Linked DNA regions of Homo sapiens: region 1 is linked to region 2. The links come from fine-mapping of genetic effects on gene expression. A gene starts in region 2. The other region holds a variant in brackets. All regions are shown on one strand. Distances are from middle to middle. Region 1 overlaps FMO3 (flavin containing dimethylaniline monoxygenase 3). Region 2 holds the start of FMO3 (flavin containing dimethylaniline monoxygenase 3).

Evidence for each region.
Region 1: its variant is fine-mapped to the expression of FMO3 in stomach (GTEx, PIP 0.98). The same link has a PIP of 0.9 or more in transverse colon.

What each region holds. Positions count from the first base shown.
Region 1 is chr1:171,109,773-171,112,696 of GRCh38, forward strand. It overlaps FMO3 (flavin containing dimethylaniline monoxygenase 3), which reads left to right. Exons shown (of 9, transcript NM_001002294.3): 6 at 1,026-1,225. Among named protein-coding and RNA genes, the nearest start is that of MIR1295A, 9.4 kb to the left of the region's middle. The variant G/C (reference allele first, on the strand shown) is at 1,702.
Region 2 is chr1:171,089,484-171,092,407 of GRCh38, forward strand. It overlaps FMO3 (flavin containing dimethylaniline monoxygenase 3), which reads left to right and starts at 1,422. Exons shown (of 9, transcript NM_001002294.3): 1 at 1,422-1,498.

The DNA of each region.
Region 1 (2,924 bases), 20 kb after region 2:
CTCAGATGATCTGCCCACCTAGGCCTCCCAAAATTCTGGGATTATAGGCGTGAGCCACCATGCCCGGACTCCTTTAGTCTCTTCTTGTCTAGTTCCTCTTATAACAAATGCCTTGAAGTGATATGGCATATAAAAATTGGTTTTAAAAAAGACAAAGAAAGCCTGAAAACTACACTATTATGGATTAGCATAACAGAAGGGGAAGGAAAGGAAACTGACATTTACTGAGCACATACTATCTGCCAGGTAACGTTAGCCATGTGACATAGTTTATCACATCGAATTAACGCTTACACAAATTTGATGAGGCAAATTCGATTCTCTCCATTTTAGGAATGAGGGAACAAGATTAGAGAAGTTAAAGGAATTTTTTCAAATCACATCATTAATAAGTAGGAGAGCCAGCGTTTGAGCGTATGGTTTTCTGATTCCAAATTTCTCACCTTCTTTCCAGATAGTAGCAGGCATTTTGCTTTAAAATGCCTATTTTGAGATCATAATTGCTTATTTGTAGACAGCAATAGTTAGATAAGTGCTAGGGAAAACGTGACTAGAATTCAGTTATTAGTCACCTGTAGCAGAGATTGATTAAAATATGAAAATTTGCCTGCAGCACTGTGACAGGGTGGCTGACCCTAAGATGTAGATGTAAAGTTCAGACGTTTATTTGGGAACACTCTCAGGATCAATACTTCCACAGGAAGGGAAGGAAGCTTCCATTTACTTTGAAGCTGGGATGGTCCTTTGGCATTGCCCCAATTTGAGGTGAGGGACTGGGCCTTTATACGCCCGCATTGACCAGTCACTAGATGGAGGAAACTCAGAAAGAGTAGAAGATGTTGGGTGAGGCCCCTCTCTTCAGCCAAAGCAATGGTCAAAAAGGACTGACAGCTGAGAGATGTCTTCTGACACCACTTTCTGCAGCTGGGGTAATAGATCCATTCCTCAAGAGGGATCTGGGGTGCTCACCAGAATATCCACTACAAATGGTCACTAATTTCATGGTTGAATTGGTGTTTTTTAAGGTCATGATCAGTTCCAGAAGTGGCTCCTGGGTGATGAGCCGGGTCTGGGACAATGGTTATCCTTGGGACATGCTGCTCGTCACTCGATTTGGAACCTTCCTCAAGAACAATTTACCGACAGCCATCTCTGACTGGTTGTACGTGAAGCAGATGAATGCAAGATTCAAGCATGAAAACTATGGCTTGATGCCTTTAAATGGGTAATGCAGAGCTAAACGTGATATGCCTGCTGGCTTTTAGTTCAGTGTCAACAACCCTTAATGTCCTGTAAGCCCAAAACAAATCAAAGTATTAGCAATCACAACTCATATATCAGAAGATAAAGAACTGCACAAATTAAGAGTGATTTCCTATTTTGCAATCCTCCTTACTATATTTACACAGCTGGAAAATTATATAATGCCTCAGGAATTAGTCCCGGGAGTAATGATAATCAAAGTTAACCTCTTTTAAGCATTTTATACATGTCAGAGATTTAGCAAGACTCTGCTAAGGCTCTGGCATATATTATTTCATTTTATCCTTACAATTATGAAGAGAGCTCTACTAGTATCTCCATTTTAGAGATGAGATAACTGCGTTTCAGTGTAGTTAATAACTTTACTAAGGTCCCACAGCCAGGAAGTAGAAGCAGCGTTCAAAACAAACCCAGATCTGCTGATTCTAGAGCCTCTCA[G/C]TCTTGGCCACTTGCTCTACTACCTGTCACTTAATGGCAAAGTTAAGCACATCAGGAGAACGTTTCATGTCCTACCTTTCCCTCTTCGTTTCATCACCCACCCCTTAATGGACCCCCTCTCACTAAACACATACTTACCAATGCTTGCATCTTCAGTCTCCTTCCCATCTTCTCCTATAACGTCCTCCAAGCCAGTAACATAACAAGAAATGACTTTGACAAGAGGTGAAAAACCCAAGTTACGAGCTGTTTTCATCAAAGTGAATTCATTAATTTGACAAACATTTATTACACGTTTATTATATGCCACATCCTGTGTTTAGCCCTGTGGATATAGTAGTGGACAAAACATGCAAAAATCCCTGTCCTCATGGAACCTACATTCTAAGTGGTGGGAAACAGACAAACAATAGCATAAGATCATATGGCGATGTGTGCTTTGGGGAAGAAAACAAAGCAGATAAAGGTAATGGCAAGTGCTGTCAGGACAATTTCCAATAGAGTCCTCAGAGTATGTCTCAGGGAGGAGACTTTTAAGAAAACCTCTGAAGGAGTTGAGGGAATGAGCCATGAGGGTCTCAGGGGAAGGGTATTCCAGACTGAGGACACAGCCAGGGCATTTACGGGCAGGGCTGGCATGATCAACAAACAACAATGGGGCTTCTCTTCCTTGAGAAAAGAGAATGAGGGGAGAATGCCAGGAGATAAAACCAGAGACATAAAAATTGTTGGATGGCGTGGGCCTTGTAGATCATTGTAAGGACTCTGGCTTTTACTCTGAAAGCAATGGGAAACTACAGCAGGCATCTGAGCAAATGAATTACAAGACCTAAATTAGCATTGCAGAGATTGATCGGCTGCTGTGGTCATCATTCAATGTAAGGGTAGGGCAAGGAAGGAAGTGAAAGGACCAGTTAAAAAGCTACTCTCAAAAACCTGAATCAGAGGGGATGTTGGTCTGGACCAAAATTGTTAGCAGTGAGTGGTCAGAATTGGGCAGATTTCTGGATAGCTTGAAGGTCGACCCAAATAGGATTTTCTGTGGACTGGATAGAGGATGAGAGAGCAAGGAGGGAGTAAGAATGTCTTCAAGATATTTGAAAAAGGATGACATTGACGTTTACTAAAATGTGAAAAACTGCAGGAGGAACAGAAGTTCAGTTTTAGACATATTAAAGTTGGAATGCCTATTAGACATTCTGGTAGAAGAATGTTGAGCCAGC
Region 2 (2,924 bases):
TGGCAAGCAAAGGATAGGCTAGAGAGAGACAGGACTAATAAATGTGTCGACTTCAGATACATTCTTGTGAAGGACAGCAAAGAATAGGTGGCCTTTTCACCTCCTAGAGAGATAAAACATCGGAGGCCAAGGTAGAATTGGGTGTGTCCTGCCAATCTTTAAATGAATAAGGCTATAGGAGTAGTATTGCTTCCTGAAGTAGTCACAATCTTTTCTTTGCATTATTTTAATTCTATTTATGTAGCATTAAAAACTGAAAAGAAGTTCTATGTAAAATGAGAGCAGAGAAAATCATGTTGTCTGAATTGCAGCCCTAGAAAATTTCATGAACCTATGACTTGTTTTTAATTTTTATCTACAAGTCACATTTGCTCATTTTTAACTACATGCCACATTTTATATGTACCTATGTATACATGTATTTATGTGTACATACCCTTTAATCCTCTAATCCTTGTTAAAAAAAAAATAGCCAGACAGGAATTAATAGTGTAGTTATCCCTATTTTATTAATGAGTAAATCAACGATTGGAAAGGTTAAGTGATTTGCCCAAGGCCACAGAGCTATAGAAGTGATTTGGAATCTCTCATACTCACACTTCAGAGATGAAGATTACTGTCTTCAAAAGGCATGAAGGGTAATTCCTCAAAATTAGACATATACCAGTTTACACTAAGTATCACTTGCTTAATGAAGGAGTTAACTAGACAAAATGAGTGAGATGTTATAATTCTAAGTGACATCAAAATATAGTTGATAGGAAAACTTTTTTTGAAATTCTACTATATTTCATGACTGGGAGTTAGGTGCAGTTTATTTTGTCTAACTGCCAACATAATTTTACCTGGTACTAATTTTACCTGGTTCCTGGTACTAATAGATCAATTTGTGGAATTTTGATCTTTTCTGTGACCACACACTGTACTCAGAAACAAGTAAATATAAGCTTGAGAAATACAGGCCTTTGACCCCAAAATTCCAAGACAGGACATGAAAAGAGAGAGCAGAGAAAAGTCATCCTCCTTATTGGGCTATCTCAATTAAGTAGCTAAGTTTCTACAGTATTTGGAGGACTACTATGAGCTACCCACAAAAGAACTAGGAATAAGGAAAACAAGGTAAACTTTCAAATAACACATAATAAAATGGAGTACAGAACTGCAAAGTCACCTGGGAGAAACTACTTGACTCCCAGGCCAAGGGTCCAAGAGTATAACCAGCAGCTTGTGTTTACCATAATCAAAGGAAAAGTAGAAACTGGGTGGCCATGGGAGACTGGCCTACAGTCCCATCCATCACAGAGGGTTGGCGTGTGCTCACCCATTCAAGGACCAATAAATGAGTATCTCTTTAAGAGCAGCTCCTCCCATTTTTCAACAATCTTCCTAATATGTAGGCTCACTAGAACATTTTCTCTTTCAAACTGCCCAGACGGTTGGACAGGACGTAGACACACAGAAGAAAAGAAGACAAAGAACGGGTAGGAAAATTAAAAAGGTAGGAGGCTGAGGCGGGTGGATCACCTGAGGTCAGGAGCTTGAGACCAGCCTGACCAACATGGTGAAACCAAATCTCTACCAAAGATACAAAAATTAGCCAGGCGTAGTGGTGCATGCCTGTAATCCCAGCTACTTGGGAGGCTGAGGCAGGAGAATCACTTGAATCTGGGAGGCAGAGGTTGCAGTGAGCCGAGATCACACCATTGTACTCCAACCTGGATAAAAGCGAAACTCCGTCTCAAAAAAAAAAAGAAAAGAAAAAGAATAAAAGGTGATATAGTAAAGGGTTGAGGGTGGGATGGGTAAATGAAGAAGGAGCATGCTGTAGTTTTATACCAAATATGGCTAGAATGAGAATGATATAATTCAGGCAGTTTGTTTGTTTCTGGGAATCACGGATCATGATGTTTAATCATCCAAGTCTATTTCCCTGCATAGCTATGTGATTTTGTCTAAAAAGAAAAAAAAAAGTAGTGAAAGAAGTAGTGGTAGAGCCTAAAGACAGTGTCAGGAACAGAAAAAAGTTAGGAAACGTAATTTTCTTAGAGGGGAATGGACGCTGAAGGTAGTGGGAAAAAATTGTTTTTAGGTAAGAACATGACTTCTTTCCCCAACACCCCCCGGAGAGAAGGTCTCACTCTGTCACCTAGGCTACAGTGCAGTGCTGTAACCATAGCTCACTGCAGCCTCAAACTCCTGGGCTCAAGCGATACCCCAGCTCAACAGGACTATATAATCCCAGAGTAGCTGGGACTATAGGTATGCACCATTTACTTGTCTTTTTAATTGAGAAGGTGAAGTACATTATTGATGGGGAGAAGGGGTGACTACCTGGCACACTGAAATACAGACATCTTCAGACCTTGTTCCTCATTATCCGTATCTAAGTAAAAAGAAGATACAGATTGCGTGTGTGTGTGTGTGTGTGTATGACTGTGTGTGTGTATACATATACATATGTGTTTCTTCATTCCCATATACAGGCATATGTATGTGGGTGGGTGGGTGGATGTGTCTACAGGTGTTTTAGTTGCGAATCTTTATTTCTTCTGCTTACTCTTTTTGGTAGACAGTAAATGACAAAGTCCAAAAGCAAAAAAGATAAATATGTATGCTGGGTCATCAGTCTCTTAATTTTGGAGAGCTGATGACTAAAAACAAAGTGCTTATTTTTTTTTCAGAAGAAAACTTTCTCTTTAGAAATTAGAGAGAAATGAAAATGTAGTTAGATCACTAAAAGGAATTTGTTTTCTAGAGACAAGGTCTTACTCTGTCACCCAGGCTGGAGTGCAGTGGTACAATCACGGCTCACTGCAGCCTGGAACTCCTGAACTCAAGTGATCCTACCGCCTCAGCCTCCTGAGTAGCTGGGAGTACAGGCATGTGCCACCACACCCAGCTGATTTTGTTTGTTTTTTGTTTTG